2 separate regions of the Homo sapiens genome follow, and region 2 is linked to region 1. The links come from fine-mapping of genetic effects on gene expression. Tissue or cell type: Th17 cells. Region 1 holds a variant in brackets; the other region holds the start of a gene. All regions are shown on one strand. Distances are between the middles of the regions.

Region 1 (8,341 bases):
CCAGGCCTTTCCCAGGCCTAAAAGCAAAATAACAAAGGAATTCTTAACAGGACCCGTTCAGAATTAAATAAGTTTTATTGGGGGTCTGAAGAAACCCCAGGCCTCCACAAACAAGTTTATTGGGGGTCTGAAGGAACTCCTTAAACCTCTGTGATTTAATAGGAGACAAGATAAGGGTAATCACCCCAGCACCTGGACCCATTTAGAGTAAGTAAATTTACTGAGGCTCCAGAGGAATGTCTTCAAGACTCAGACCTCAGCTACAGATTAAAAGAAGTTAATCACTTATGTCTTTAGATGAATGCAAACTTACACATAGACATATAGCTTAGAAGATAAATAAACTACGGAAAAACTTTGTAATTTTGAGTTGGTCTGGCGGTAATTTCCAGGCCTTCTACCTGTAACTGGTTACAGAAATAAAAACTCCCATCTCTCCCAATTCATCTGCATCTCGTTATTGGGCCGCGAGAGTAAGCAGCCTGACCCTCAGTTTGGTCTGGGAACAGGAGCAGAAAACTGGCACCAAAGAAAAAGTCTTGCAAAGTTCAAAACAACAAATGTTTCATTTCTATCCTGTTCACCTTGCAAAGCAATGATAAGAGTTGGGAGAAGGACAAAACCAAAACAAAATGTGCGGCCTCCCAAGGAATTCCAAGTATGCATAAAAATTGCAGGGCACGCAATCCCTCTAGATTTCACATACTCTAGGGATATTATAATTAATTTTCTTACAACTCCATCTAGAACACATTGAGAGGCTGGTTTCCGAGGATCCAGAGAAATTCCTGTCTCTGAAAGAAGTTCTTGAGAACCAGTATTTATTCCAGTTTCACGCTCAATACGAGACTGTAGTGAATGAAGACTTTCATCAGGTGGTAACAGAAAAGAAATTATCTTTGCAGAAGTCATATTTAGGATGTGTACTATCTGTATAAATAAGAAAAAAAGGTAAAGTTATTGATTATTTGTTACATAAAAGATTCGCTGCCAGATACTAAAAGGTGAATATGGGCAAAAGGCATTATTTCTACATTAAACAAGGCTCACTCATTCTCCAAAGTGAGATCTCCTTTTATAATTATAAAATGACATTCTGAAAACTGAACAATTTCCTTTTCTACAATAGATGTTAGTTCCAACAATAAAATTTCAAAGTTAAGAAATTTTCAAAATTAAGAAAAATCCCAATTTGAAAGAACAAGTTATTTATTTATTTATTTATTTATTTATTTTTTTTTTTTTTGAGACGGAGTCTCGCTCTGTCGCCCAGGCTGGAGTGCAGTGGCGGGATCTCGGCTCACTGCAAGCTCCGCCTCCCGGGTTCACGCCATTCTCCTGCCTCAGCCTCCCAAGTAGCTGGGACTACAGGCGCCCGCCACTACGCCCGGCTAATTTTTTGTATTTTTAGTAGAGACGGGGTTTCACCGTTTTAGCCGGGATGGTCTCGATCTCCTGACCTCGTGATCCGCCCGCCTCGGCCTCCCAAAGTGCTGGGATTACAGGCGTGAGCCACCGCGCCCGGCCTAAGTTATTTATTTTGAAAAAAACATTATCATAGACCGAAAAGGAAACATTCCAATTCATGAAGTGCCTAACAGAAGACAACCACAGGCATAAACCACTTTCACATAACATCCCCAATAATTAGATCTTTTAATCTCCATTTTAAACAGAGAAAGAAACCAGAGTTCTAAGTTAAATAACTTGTTAGGGATCACACAGCTAATAACTGGTAGAGCTTGGATCTTAACTCTTTTTGTGTCTGGCTACTTCATGCTGCCTTAAGAAATCATCTGATAGAAGAACTAGGTCTCTCTTTAAACAGGAAAAAGCATTGTTATGCGTGGTGAGTTACCTTTTTATAAGACAACCTAATCCCAGAGCAGCAACCTGCTTAAGGGCCCCAAATCAAGTAAGAACCGTTTTATCACTCTCACCTAAAGCCCCAGTAAAAGTAGCCTGATACATGCCAAGTGAGTGTGAGGCTGAGTCAGGTGGGGCTCTGTCCCCACCTGTCAGCGCGGACAGCCACAGAGTTGGACTTCAGTCTTTTGAAAAGAACATGATTTTAAATTCTCTTCCTTCCAGTATCCTTAGAAAAGCCATACGAAATTAATGCCTACATTCTCCATGCCTTACATTGACTAGTATATGCAAATGATTAAAATTCTCTCTGCTGAAAATCCTTACTACAAAGGTAAGGCATTAATCCAAGTCCACTATTATTTTTTTCCCTTTAAAACACAAATCTGAATTGATGTTTTCAAAGACACAAAACTATAGACAACAGTACAATAAGCCCCCTCCCAACCCTGTGAATGCCTCACCTAGTTTCAACCATCATTTACATAGAGCCTATCTTGTTTCATCTATCATAACCCCCTCTCCTGATTTATTGCTTTATCTTTTACATATTTTATTTTGTGACAATTTAATTTGACATATAAAAATGTTATATATTTGAGTTATACAACTTGATGTTTTGATATACGTTGTGAAATTATCACATTTCAGCTAATTAATATATCTGTCACCTCTTCATAGTTGTCATTTTTGTACCTTTTTTTTCTTTTGCTGCCGTAATTTTTGGACCTTTTGATAAACATCTCTACATACACCCCCGCACCCGCATCCCTGCAGCCCCTGGCAACTATGATGCTATGGTCTGCTTCTATTAAATTTAACTATTATAGATTCCACATGTAAGTGAGATCACGCAGTATTTCTCTTTCTGTGACTTGCTTATTTTACTTAACATGTCCTCCAGGTTCATCCACATTGTCCTAAATGGCAGAATTTCCTTCTTTTTCTTAAGGTTGAATACTATTCCACTGTGTATATATACCACTTTTTCCCTATCCATTCATCTGTCAAAGGACATTTAGGCTATTTCCAGATCTTGACTATTGTGAATAATGCTGCAATGAACATGGGAGTGCAAATATCTCTTCACAAGCCTGCTTTAAAATCCTTTGGATATATACCAAGAAATGACATTGTTGAATCTTACAGTTCTATTTTTTTTTTTTTTCTTTTGAGACAGAGTCTTGCTGTGTCACGCAGGCTGATGTGCAGTGGCATGATCTCTCAGCTCACTACAACTTCCACCTCCTGAATTCAAGCAATTATCCTGCCTCAGCCTACGGAGTAGCTGGGATTACAGATGTGCACCACCATGCCCAGCTAATTTTTGTAATTTTAGTTGAGATGGGGTTTCTGCATGTTGCCCAGTCTGGTCTCGAACTCCTGGCCTCATGTGATCCACCTGTCTCAACCTCCCAAAGTGCTGGGATTACAGGCATGAGCCACCATGCCCGGCCAGTAGTTCTATTTTTAATTTTGAGGAACCTTTGTACTGTTTCCCACAATAGCTGTAATAATTTACATTCCCACCAACAGTGTACAAGGGATTTCTTTTCTCCCACATCCTCACTAACGCTTATCTTTTTTCTTTTGGATAATAGCCATCCCAACAGGTGGGGGGTGATATCTTAGTGTGGTTTTGATTTGCATCGCCCTGATGCTAAGAGTTGTTGAGCACCTTTTCATATGTTTGTTGACCATCTGAATTTCTTCTTTTGAGAAGTGTCTAATTCAGGTCCTTTGCACATTTTTAAATTGGGTTATTTACATTTTTGGTATTGAGTTGCATGAGTTTCTTATAAATTTAGGATATTAATTTCTTATTGGATGTATGGTATGCAAATATCTTTTCCCAATCCATGGGTTGGGTTGCTTTTTCGTTTTGTTGATTATTTTTTCTACTGTACACTTTTTAGTTTGAAGGCCCACTATTATTTCCACTTACAAATCCTAACACAGATGCCCAAATAAGTGGTGCTACAGAAATACTAAACTGAGGCTGGGCGTGGTGGCTCACGCCTGTAATCCCAGCACTTTGGGATTACAAGACAAGTAGATCACTTAAGGTCAGGAGTTCAAGACCAGCCTGGCCAACATGGTGAAACCTTGTCTCTACTAAAAACACAAAAATTAGCTGGGCTTGGTGGCACAACGCCTATAATCCCAGCTACTCAGAAGGCTGAGGCAGGAGAATCGCCTGAACCTGGGAGATCAAGGCTGCAGTGAGCCAAGATCGCGCCACTGCACTCCAGGCGACAGAGTGAGACTTTGTCT[CA/C]AAAAAAAAAAAAAAGAAAGAAGAAAAAGAAAAAAAAAGAAAAAAGAAAGGGATACTGAATATTCCCAACACAGAGAAATTATGTTTTAGCTGATGGATATGCTAATTACCCTAATCTGATCACTACACAGTGCATGTATTGAAACATCACTATTTACCCCATTAATTTGTATAATTATTTGTCAATTTAAAAAATTAGGCTGGGCGCGGTGGCTCACACCTGTAATCCCAGCCCTTTGGGAGGCCAAGACAGGTAGATCACTTGAGGACAGGAGTTTGAGAACATCCTGGCCAACATGGCAAAACCCTGTCTCTACTAAAAACACACAAAAAATTAGTTGGCCATGATGGCGCACACCTGTAATTCCAACTACGCGGGAGGCTGAGGCACGAGAGAATCACTTGAGTCTGGGAGGTGAAAGTTGCAGTGAGTGGAGATTGCACCATGGTACTCTAGCCTGGGTGATAGAACAAGACTCTTATCTCAAAAAAAAAAAAAAAAATTAAAAGCGTATTAACAATTTTGTTTGTTTGTTTTTGAGACAGAGTCTCTCTCTGTCACCCAGGCTGGAGTGCAGTGGTGCGATCTTGGTTCAATGCAGCCTCCACCTCCCAGGTTCAAGCAACTCTTCTGCCTCAGCCTCCCGTGTAGCTGGGACTACAGGCATGCACCACCATCCCTGGCTAATTTTTGTATTCTTAGTAGAGATGGGGTTTCACCATGTTGGCCAGGCTGGTCTCGAACTCCAGACCTCAAGTGATCTGCCTGCCTCCACCTCCCAAAGTGCTGGGATTACAGGCATGAGCCACCACACCTGTATCAACAAAATTTTAAAAAAGAAATACCAAACTGTTTTTATAACCTGAAGCTGATCCTTTTCATGTGAATTCCAAATGTCATAACACAATTGCCAGTATTTCTCTTATTAAGAGACTTTTCTTTAATATAAATCTTTATGTTTAAAAGGGGAGTAGGGAAATCTTCAAAACTGATACGGATTTGCAATACAATTATACTACCTGAGACTTTCCATGCCTTCCCAATTTAGGCAGATTTCACACTATGACAGCTGCCACTTATAGCAATAGAAAATCCTATAATGGACATCTACTTTTACACAGGATATTAGAGTATGTCATCATGGCATCTCACTACCAAAGCTCCAGGCCAGAAGGAAGCAAAAGAAAGAAGAGGAAATACAACCTAAATTTATCTTTTTGCTCACTATAATATTTAATGAGTACCTACTATTGGTAGGTACATACTATTGGTACATACTATTAAGTGTGTTGTGGTGGTAGTAGTGGGTATACAAACTGAGTACCTTATGATCCTTGCCTTCCATACAGTTATAGTCAAACAGAAGATATTAAGATATACTAAGAGAACTAAGGTACCAGGCAAAATGTGATAGGTGTTATAATCAGTGTAAAGTATCATACACTTGGCAGTAGGAAGCAGGCACTTCATAAAGGAGGCACTACTTGAGCTAAACTTTGAAATGAAAGACTGAAATGGGAAAAGACTGAAAAGAGTTCCTTTAGGCAGAAAACAAGGTGAGCAGAAGCAGAAAAGTAGAAAGGGATGGGCATAATCAGAGAATACAATTAATCCAGTTCAAATGTACCTAAAATGATGGCCTCTCAGGGCATTAGTAAGAGATAAGTCCAGGAGTGTAAGTTGATATGAAACCAAGATAGGTTTTGAGTACCAATGAAAGGGTCTGGACTTTATTCAATAAGTGAAAGAAAACTATGCAAGCCTTTCTAAATTGAGAACCTGGCAAGCTCAAAATTGTTAAGATATTCAAAAGATAAATTTGATAAAATAATTGGATATATCGATTGAAGAGAAAGGAAGAGTCAACACATCCAAAGTTTCCCACCTGGGTAACTGGAAAGGTGACAGTGCAAATAAGAAGTGTAGGAAATCTATAGAGGTAGATTTAATGGGCCAGGTGCAGTGGCTCATGCCTGTAATCCCAGCACTTTGGAAGGCCGAGGTGAGCAGATCACCTGAGGTCAGGGTGTCAAGACCAGCCTGGCCAACATGGTGAAACCCCATTTCTACCAAAAATATAAAAATTAGCTGGACACGGTGGCAGGCACCTGTAATCCCAGCTACTCGGGAGGCTGAGGCACGAGAATCACTTGAACCCAGGAGGTGTAGGTTGCAGTGAGTTGAGATCGTGAGACAGAGTGAGGCTCCATATCAAAAAAAAAAAAAAAAAAAAAAGAAGTAGATTTAATGGATAGAACAAATATGTTCAGTTTTTAATAAATTAAGTTGTAAGTGCCAGTGGAACAGCCAGGTAGTTATACAGTTATACAGCAGTTATAAGTCCTTGGCAGAAGAGTCACAGCTACAGAGATAAATAACTTTAGGAGTTAGCCATATGTAGTTTATAAGTAAAGCTATACAGTTGAAGAGGCTGCCTAATAAAAGAAAGGAAATGTAATGGAAAAAGAGAGAACCAAGAAGAGACTCAGAATATAGTTACATTTAGGGGCGTGAAAGAGGAGGCAAAAAAAAATAATAATTAAATGCTACTGTTTCATCATTATTTTTAGTGGTAGGTTCAGTACACTTCTTTCAACTCTTCTACATATCTAAAGATGTTCATAATAAACAGTTGGAAAATATGCATACAATCAGACTTGCTAAGCTATTTTTTCAAAAGGGAAATATTTCAGTAACTGTTTTGTTGCTTCCTTTTTTAAGTGAAAATCAAACAGACATCATTCCTTTCTTGTACAATATATATAAACATTTTGGGAAAATGTCCTACAGTAACACCAAGCTGTTTTGCAGTTCATGCTTCTGTACTTTTGCTCATGATGCTCTGCTGCCTATAAATCTCTCCCGCCCTCACCCTTTCCCTAAAAACTCTCATTCTTCAAAATTCAGTCCTATTATCATGTCTAACAAGCATCCTTGAAGCTTCTTGAACTACTATAACTAGTACCTTATACATACCTTATTCTGCATAACCTCATAATAATATTGATGCTTTGAGGAAGATATTACTGTCCTTGAGATAGAGAGACATTTGCTCAGGTTCACAGATAGGTAAATAGTGGTGCTGCAAACTGAATTAAAGTCTGTAAACTATAAACTCCATAATGTGGACTCTTTCCCCGTGCCCTATAACAAGAGGCTCACAGATGCCCTTCAGAGCAGAAACTATGCTATGATTCCTATGACAAGTATGAAACAAATGCGAGATGTGGTTCATTCACAGCTGAAATGTTTCAGAGGCAACACAGAACTAAAGCCCTGCTTTCCTAACACACTGAGGGATAATTTATTCTTTGGCACATTAGAAGGAAACCAAATCAAGAAGAAGCCAGGTATCTTTTCAGTGTTAGCCAAGAATGACATCCACATGGCCTCAAGTTTCTATTTAATAAAGTATGCCAAGGTCGGGCACAGTAGCCCACATCTGTAATCTCAGCACTTTGGGAAGTCGAGGTAGGAGGATTACTTGAGGCCAGGAGTTCAAAACCAACCTGCTCAACACAGTGAGACCCCATTTCTACCAAAAATTTAAAAATTAGGCAGGAGAGGTGGCGCACACCTGTAGTCCCATTTACTCTGGAGGCTGAAGCAGGAGAATCACTTGAGCTCAGGGGTTGCAGACTAAAGTGAGCTATCTCGCCATGTACTCCAACATTACATGATTATAATTTCTCATTTCAATTTTAGAAACCTGTATACTACAAACAATCAATACAAATGTAAAGACTATTGATGAGAGTTGTTTCTGGGTACACTGCATAATAGAACTATCTATAGCTCTCATTCATATCAATAAATAATTTACTAAGAACCTGATACATGCCCTGCTCTGTACAGAATGCCATGGTTAGGAAGGGTAGGGTGGGTGATTGTTAATAAAAGAAGTAAAACAATCCCAACATTGAAGAAGACAACAGTCTATATGAAGATGCATGAATGGAAGACGAGAAAGAGAATATAGCCTTTAAATGACAAATTTTGTGGCAGAGACCATTTAAAGAAAAGCTCTTAAAGATATGCCAGTGTAGGTGAGAAGATACACAGAAATGGATATCCAGGCAGAAGGATAGCATCTGTCAAAGCACAAAGGTAGATAACGGGTTTGAGGCATAAGGAGCAGTGACAAGCTGGTCTTGTATGAGGTAAAGGTTAAGAGAAGCAGGTACAAGGCAAAACTTGGT
Region 2 (8,341 bases), 54 kb after region 1:
ACCTTTCTAGTACTTTCTCCAAGTTTTCTTAACTGAACTGGCAATTTGATTACTCTCTGCCTCTGTCATTCCCTAGGGTAGTTCCACCCTACCCATCCTAAATCCAAGTTTTTCCCATCCTTCAAGGTTTAGCACATTTCTGAAGCCTTCCTGGCTGGCTCAGAAGTCATTACCTTCTCAAAAACTCAGAAAACCACATTACAGCATTTCAGAGAAAGCTTTGTCATAAACTAATATGACTTTTATTTATATTTTGAGCACCACCTCCTCTAGGAAGCCTTCTAGTACCTATCAGTTACCAATTTCTAGTGTTCCCATAGGAGCCTGCATTTCTTCCATCACAGCAGTTGTCACACGGAATTACCATTGTCTCTGGGAGATCCACTGTCCAGTTTATACATCACCAGGTGCCTCATCTCCTCATCTGGGCCCTTTTCCACTGTTCTCTATCCCACTGAATAAAGATAGAAATCTATGACCCAACAAGGCCAGCTCCTTTTCACTCACAATTAAACCATCACAAGCCTTGTTGATTTTACTTCCTTAATAAACCCTGAATCCCTAAACTATTCCTCTGTCATCACTCTACCTAATCCCAGCTGTTCTCTACTTTGGCTCTGATTTGTTCTCCACATTGCAGACAGAACTGCTTTCCAAAATGAAAATTTGATCATGCCAAAGCGTTCTTAAGCATTTCAATAACCTTTTTAGGTTAAAGACAAGAATACAGTTACGTGCCACATAACAATGTTTCGGTCAACAAGGGACCACATATGTAATGGTGGTCCCATAAGATTATAATGGAACTAAAAAATTCCTATCGCCTAGTGATGTCTAGCCATTTGTAACATCATAGTGCAATATATTACTCATTTGTTTGTGGTAATGCTGGTATAAACCTACTGGGCTGGTGGTTATAAAAAGTGTAGCACATACAGTTATGTACAGTATACAATATTTGATAATGATAATAAACAACTATGTTACTGGTTTATGTATAATATTTAGCATGCTATGGCCAGGTGCGGTGGCTTACGCCTGTAATCCCAGCACTTTGGGAGGCCAAGGCGAGCGGATCACAAGGTCAGGAGCTCGAGACCATCCTGGTTAACACAGTGAAACCTCATCTCTACTAAAAATACAAAAAATTAGCCGGGCGTGGTGGCGGGCGCCTGTAGTCCCAGCTACTCAGGAGGCTGAGGCGGGAGAATAGCATGAACCCACGAGGCAGAGCTTGCAGTGAGCTGAGATCGCGGCACTGCACTCCAGCCTGGGCAACAGAGCAAGACTCCATCTCAAAAAAAAAAAAATATATTCAGTATGGTATGCTCTTTACTGTTTAGAGTACACTCCTACGTATTCAAAAAAAAAAAAAAAAAGTTGACTGTAAAAAAGCCTCAGGCAGGTCCTTCAGGAAGTATTCCAGAGGGCACTGTTATCATAGGAGATGACAGCTTCATGCATGTTATTACTACTGAAGCCCTTCCAGTGGGACAAGATATGGAGGTGAACAGCAGTGATACTGATGATCCTGACCCTGTGTAGGCCTAGACTCGTGTGTGTGTCTTAGTTTGCAACAAAACAAGTTTAAAGCCAGGCACAGTGGCTCACGTCTGTAATCCCAGCACTTTGGGAGGCTGAGGCAGGAGGGTAACTTGAGCCCAGGAGTTCAAGACCAGCCTGGGTAACATAGCAAAACCCCCTCTCTACAAAAAATACAGAAATTAGCCAGGTGTGGTAGCTTCCGCCTGTAGTCCCAGCTACTCAGGAGGCTGAAGTGGGAGAATCACTTGAGCCCAGGAGGTTGAGGTTGCAGTGAGCCGTGATTGCACAATTGCACTCCAGCCTGGGCGACAGTGAGACCCTGTCTCCAAAAAAAAAAAAAGTTTAAAAGGTAAAAAGAAAAAAAAAGTAATAGAAAAAAGCTTGTAGAATAAGGATATAAAGAAAATATTTTTGTACAGCTGTACAATGTGTTTTATGTCTTAGCTGTGTTATAACAAGAGTCAAAAAGTGTAAAAAAACTTAAAGTTTATAAAGTAAAAGTTACAGTAAACTAAGGTTTACTGTTGAAAATAATATTTTAATAAATTTAATATAGGTGAAGTGTACAGTATTCATAAAGTCTACAATACTGTAAAGTAATACATTCACTCACCTCTTACTAACTCACTCAGAGAAACTTTCAGTTCTGCAAACTCCATTCATGATAAGTGTCCTACACAGGTTGTGCCCTTTTTTTTTTTCCTGTATACAGTATTTTCTTTTTTTCTTTTTCTTTTTTTTTTTTTTTGAGACAGTCTCGCTCTGTCGCCCAGGCTGGAGTGCAGTGGTGCGATCTCGGCTCACTGCAACCTCTGCCTCCCAGGCTCAAGCCATTCTCCTGCCTCAACCTCTTGAGTAGCTGGGATTACAGGCGCCCGCTACCACACCCGGCTAATTTTTGTATGTTTAGTAGACACAGGGTTTCACCATGTTGGCCAGGCTGGTCTTGAACTTCTGACCTCAGGTGATCCACCCACCTCGGCCTCCCAAAGTGTTGGGATTACAGGCATAAGCCACCACACCCGGCCAGGTGTTTTCACTGTACCCTTTCTATATTTAAATACAAAAATGCTTACCATTGTGTTACAATTGCCTACAGTATTCAGTACAGTAACTTGACGTACAGCTATACCATTTAGCCTAGGTGTACAGGAAGCCATACCATCTAGGTCTCTGGAAGTACACTCAAAGATGTTCGCACAATGACGAAATCGCCTACCAACTCATTTCTCAGAACATAACCCTGCTGTTAAGCAATGGATTACTCTTATTTCCCAAGGCTCAATCCTAACATTCTCGGGAAGCCTTCTTGACTCCTATCATTAAGCCAAATACCCCTCTTATGCACTCTCCCAGATTCACGAATATTTTCTTCCCAAAAGTTACCACTATTGCAATTTTTTTTTTTTTTTTTTTGAGACAGGGTTTCAATCTGTCACCCAGCCTGGAGATCAGCAGCACGATCACAGCTCACTGCAGCATCGACCTCCCCAGGCTCAGGTGGTCCACCTGCTTCAGCCTCCCAATTAGCTGGGACCACCACGCCCGGCTAATTTTTTTTTTTTTCTGTATTTTTTGTAGAAACGGGGCCTTGCTATATTGCCCAGGCTGGTCTTGAATTCCTGGACTCAAGTGATTCTCTTGCCTTGGCCTCCGGAGTCGCTGGGATTATAGGCGTGAGCCACTGCGCCTGGCCCTATCACTATGGTAACTTTACATTTATCTGAATTCCTTTTTTTTTAGACGGAGTCTCACTCTGTTACCTAGGCTGGAGTGCAGAGGTGCAGTGTCGGCTCACTGTGCAACCTCCGCCTCCGGGTTCAAGCGATTCTCCTGCCTCAGCCTCCCAAGTAGCTGGGATTACAGGCACGCGCCACCACGCCTGGCTAATTTTTTTTTTTTGTATTAGTAGAGACGGGGTGTCACCACGTTGGCCAGGCTGGTCTCGAACTCCTGACCGCAAGTGATCCGCCCGCCTCAGCCTCCCAAAGTGCTAGGATTACAGGCGTGAGCCACCGCGCCCGGCCATTATTTGTATTGTTTTTTGTTTGTTTTGTTTTGTTTTGTTTTGTTTTGAGAGTCTCGTTCTGTCGCCCAGGCTGGAGTGCAGTGGCGCGATCTCGGCTCACAGCAACCTCCGCCTCCCGGGTTCAAGCGATTCTCCTGCCTCAGCCACCGCGCCCGGCCCATTATCTGGATTCTTTAGTACCTGTTCCTCTAGACTCTACGCTCCATTAAAGCAGGAACTCCATCTGTTGCAACACCTAGCACAGCGTCCGGCACACTGCAGTTCTTCAATAAATACTTGCTGCATGAAGCCCTCTCTTCACCACCACCCCCACCCCTCCTCCTCGCAAAAAAAAAAAAAAAAAAAAAATGCCCCAGGGAAGGGTCCCTATCTACTCTGTCCACCACTGCCCAGGGCCCATCAGTGGGCCCAATGGCTATTTGGCGAGTAAATAAATGGGGTCAGGAGAAACGAAGGGGAAAGGATGTGTCAGAGGCCAGGACTGCCCCCTAAGATGGAGGAGGCCTAACTCTGGGAGCTTCCGCCTCTCCGAACGAGCGTCGCCAAGAGAAACCCCCTCAGAAGCGAAAAGGGCCAGGAAAAGAGGTCAGCCCCGGCCAGGCAAAGACATCACCTAAGCTCCCCAGCAGCCCCGTGTCTCTCCGCCTTTTCCTTCTCCCTTCCCGTCATGGGAAAGACTCCCGCCCGTGTCGTCACCTACACACACGAAAGAGACACAGGGAGAGAGGCTTCCATTCACGGTCACTCACAGGCGCAGCGGTTTCTGTGCCATCTGTCCGAATAGTATGGGTTGCGACTGCCACCTAAAATTGGGAATGCGAATCCGCGCTCCCCGGAAAAATGCGACCGCGCAACAATCAGACGTCAGCGCCCTCCAGCCAATAACGGTTCACTTACTTACGGAGACCGCCGAGGGACAGAAGCCTCTCTCAGGTGTTTGCGCCTCAAGGAAGAATCAAGAGGGAAAGGGAGGAACGAAGGGAGAAAGAGAAAGTGACCGAAAGGATTCCAACTATGATTTTTTAAATTAAATTTCAGAGCACTTGAAGCGAATGAATGGCTAGGAAGTACAGAGCACAATGTCGGGTTCTAACCTAACCTAACCTAACCTAACCTAACCTAACCATATCGGTCTAGTGGGCAAGACAGACCCCCTCTATCCACGTTTTTTGTAAGTTTTTAACCTATCAAAAAGTTAAGAGGCCGGGCGTGGACGCTCACGCCTATAATCCCAGCACTTTGGAAGGCTGAGGCGGGCGGATCACTTGAGGTCGGGCGTTCAAGACCAGCCTGGGCAACATGGTGAAACCCCGTCTCTTCTAAAAATACAAAAATTAGCCGGGCATGGTGGAGAATTGCTTCAACCAGGGAGGCGGGGGTTGCAGTGAGTCAAGATCGCGCCATTGCACTCCAGCCTGGACAACAAGAGCGAAACTCCGTCTCAAATTAAAAAAAAAAAAGTTAAAAGAATAATGGCTATTACCTTGATTCAGTAAGTCTCAGCATGTTGGCAAATTTGCTTGTGTTCTCTTTCTCTCAAAGTGCCCAAGCCCTTCCATTCTCACTCAATCATTTGAAAGTAAAGTACAGGCCGGGCGCAGTGGCTCACGCCTGTAATCCCAGCACTTTGGGAGATCCAGACCATCCTGGCTAACACGGTGAAACCCCCTCTCTACTAAAAATACAAAAAATTAGCCGGGCGTGGTGGCACGCACCTGCAGTCCCAGTTACTCGGGAGGCTGAGGCAGGGGAATCGCTTGAACCCAGGAGGAGGAAGTTGCAGTGAGCCGAGATCGCGCCACTTCACTCCAGCCTGGGCGACAGAGCGAGACTCCGTGTCAAAAAATAAAATAAAATAAAGTGCGGACAACAGGAATACATCTCCATTTATCTCCTAAGATTAGGATATCCTCCTACATAACCGTAATACTATTAACACAGCTAAGAAAATTAACATTAATTATTCAATAATATTACCTAATATACATCCATATTTAAAGTTCTCCATATTTCCCTACAAACTGATTTTATATTTGGGGCTTGTTTTGATTCAGATGCAATCAAGTTTCACACTTGCATTTGGTTCTGTCTCTATTTTAATCTACAAAAGCCCTCCTACCTATTTGGTTTTAGTTTTTGTAATATTGACTTTTTTGAAGGGTTCAGGCCAAGTGGTAGGAAACAAGTGTGTAAGGAAATGGAAACAAGAGAGAGTTCCTGACGACTGCGGGGAAAGGAAGACTCATCAAGGGCATCTAAATAATTCAAAATTAATAAAACATAAGATTAAAGAAGAACTACAGGCCAGGCACAGTGGCTCATGCCTGTAATCCCAGCACTTTGGGAGGCTGAGGCGGGAGGTTCACTTGAGAACAGGAGTTCAAGGCCAACCTGGGCAACATAGCCAGACCTCGTCTCTACTACAAATTTAAAAAGAAAAAAAAAAAAGTTAGCTGGGCATGGTGGCCGTATGCCTGTACTCCCAGGTACTCCAGAGGCTGAGGTGGGGAGATCACTTGAGCCCAGGAGATGGAGGCTTCAGCGAGCTATTACCTTGCCACTGCACTCCAGCCTGGGTGACACAGCAAGCCCTGTCTCAATAACCAAACAAAACTACAAAGTTCTGGCTTTTCCCACAGCCTACAAGCCTTCTTTTTTGTTTGTTTCTTGCCTCATAACTGGTGGCTCTGCTTTGCTGGCACATAAGCATGCATTTTTTCCTACTCTTTGGATAATACAGCACTGCCCAGGAGTAGCACTCAAGACTGAATCTTGAAGAAGAGTAGAAGTTTGCCAAACATGAGCAGGTAATAATTCCCAGAAGAGGATACAAAAGTAAGACATAAAAACTCATCGTATTGAAAAATCAAAAGACTCCACGAAAAAGACTGTTAGAAATAATAAACGAATTCAGTAAAAGTTTCAGGATACCAAATCAACATACAAAAATCAGTAGCATTTATATGCACCAACAGTAAACAATCTGAAAAAGAAATCAAAAAAGCAATCTCATTTACAACAGCTACAAAGAATATAAACTACGTAGGAATCAATTTAACTAAAGAAATGAAAGATCTATACAAGGAAAACTATACAATACTGATGAAAGAGGACACACACACAAAAAGGAAAGATATTCCACGCTTATGGATTAGAAGAATTAGGCGGGCAGATCACGAGGTCAGGAGATCGAGACCTTCCTGGCTAACACGGTGAAACCCCGTCTCTCCTAAAAATACAAAAAAATTAGCCAGGCGTGGTAGCGGGCGCCTGTAGTCCCAGGTACTCGGAAGGCTGAGGCAGCAGAATGGCATGAACCCGCGAGGCAGAGCTTGCAGTGAGCGGAGATCCAGCCACTGCACTCCAGCCTCTAGCCTGGGCAACAGAGCGAGACTCCGTCTCAAAAAAAAAAAAAAGAAAGAAAGAAAAAAGACAACACTACCTAAAGCAATTTACAGATTCAGTCCAATCCCCATCAAAATACAAATGGCATTCTCTAGATAGAGCAAGGATCCCCAACCCCCGGGCTATGGACCAGTACCCATCAGAAACCAGGACGCACAGCAGGAGGCGAGCGGTGGGCAAGTGAGAATAACCGCCTGAGCTCACTTCCTATCAGATTAGTGGTGGCATCAGATTCTTACAGAGGCTGGAACCCTATTGTGAACTGCACATGCGAGGGTTCTACGGCGCTGCGTACCTTACAAGAATCTGATGCCTGATGATCTGAGGTGGAACAGTTTCATCCCCAAACCATCCCCCCATCCCTACTTTCAGCTCTCTTTTTCTAATGTAAATGTCATGTACGAGCGTTTGTTTTTTTTGTTTTGTTTTGTTTTGTTTTTGTTTTTGTTTGAGACTGAGTCTCGCTCTGTCGCCCAGGCTGCAGTGCAGTGGCGCGATCTACGCTCACTGCAAGCTCCGCCTCCCGGGTTCACGCCATTCTCCTGCCTCAGCCTCCAGAGTAGCTGGGACTACAGGCACCCGCCACCATGCCTGGCTAATTTTGTTTTTGTATTTTTAGTAGAGACGAGTTTTCACCGTGTTAGCCAGGATGGTCTCGATTTCCTTGACCTCGTGATCCGCCCGCCTCGGCATCCCAAAGTGCTGGGATTACAGACGTGAGCCACCGCGCCCGGCCACAATAGTTTTATTTGACGTCAGGACTGTTTTGTAGACCGAGGTGTGATAGATGTGGCACGCACCAGCCACGGTTTCCACCGTCCCCAGAGCGTGGAGAGGCAGCGCCACTGCTCTCAAGGTTAATGACAACTCAATAAAGCACTGCTTTTATTTTTTGCAGTCTTCAATTTGAGAAAGGCCAGAAATAATGTTTTCAATAAATATGGTTCATACCATTAAAAAAAAAAATCCCCCCGCGTCCACGGAAAAATTGTCTTCCATAAAAGCGGTCCCTGGTGCCAAAAAGATTAGGGACTGCTGCTCTACAGAAATAGAAATAGAAAAAACAATCCTAAAATCTATATGGAACCACAAAAGACCCCAAAGAGCCAAAGCAATCCTGAGCAAAAAGCACAAAGCTGAAGGCATCATACTGCCCAACCTCAAAATCTACTACAAAGCTATGGTAACCCAATCAGTATGGTACTGACATAAAAATAGACACATAGACCAATGGAACATATATAAATCCATGCATTTACAGCCAACTCATTTTATGTCAATACCAAAAGTACAAAGGTGCCAAGAACATTCAATGAGGAAAGGACAGTCTCTTCAATAAATGATTCTTGGAGAACTGGATAG

Alleles and levels. Alleles are on the strand shown, and positions count from the first base shown. SD is a standard deviation of normalised expression in the study named.
For the expression in Th17 cells of the gene that starts at base 4,391 in region 2, allele CA in region 1 goes with a lower level than allele C (moderate effect, 0.60 SD a copy in Schmiedel 2018).

Evidence for each region. PIP is the estimated chance that this variant, and not a neighbour inherited with it, causes the effect.
Region 2: it holds the start of CWF19L1, and the variant in region 1 is fine-mapped to the expression of CWF19L1 in Th17 cells (Schmiedel 2018, PIP 0.95).

Annotation. Positions count from the first base shown.
Region 1 is chr10:100,208,860-100,217,200 of GRCh38, forward strand. CHUK (component of inhibitor of nuclear factor kappa B kinase complex) reads right to left here. Exons shown (of 21, transcript NM_001278.5): 10 at 736-930. Among named protein-coding and RNA genes, the nearest start is that of CHUK, 17 kb to the right of the region's middle. The variant CA/C (reference allele first, on the strand shown) is at 4,141.
Region 2 is chr10:100,263,248-100,271,588 of GRCh38, forward strand. CWF19L1 (CWF19 like cell cycle control factor 1) reads right to left here and starts at 4,391. Exons shown (of 14, transcript NM_018294.6): 1 at 4,324-4,391. The coding sequence starts at 4,346. RefSeq lists an enhancer at 2,122-2,371.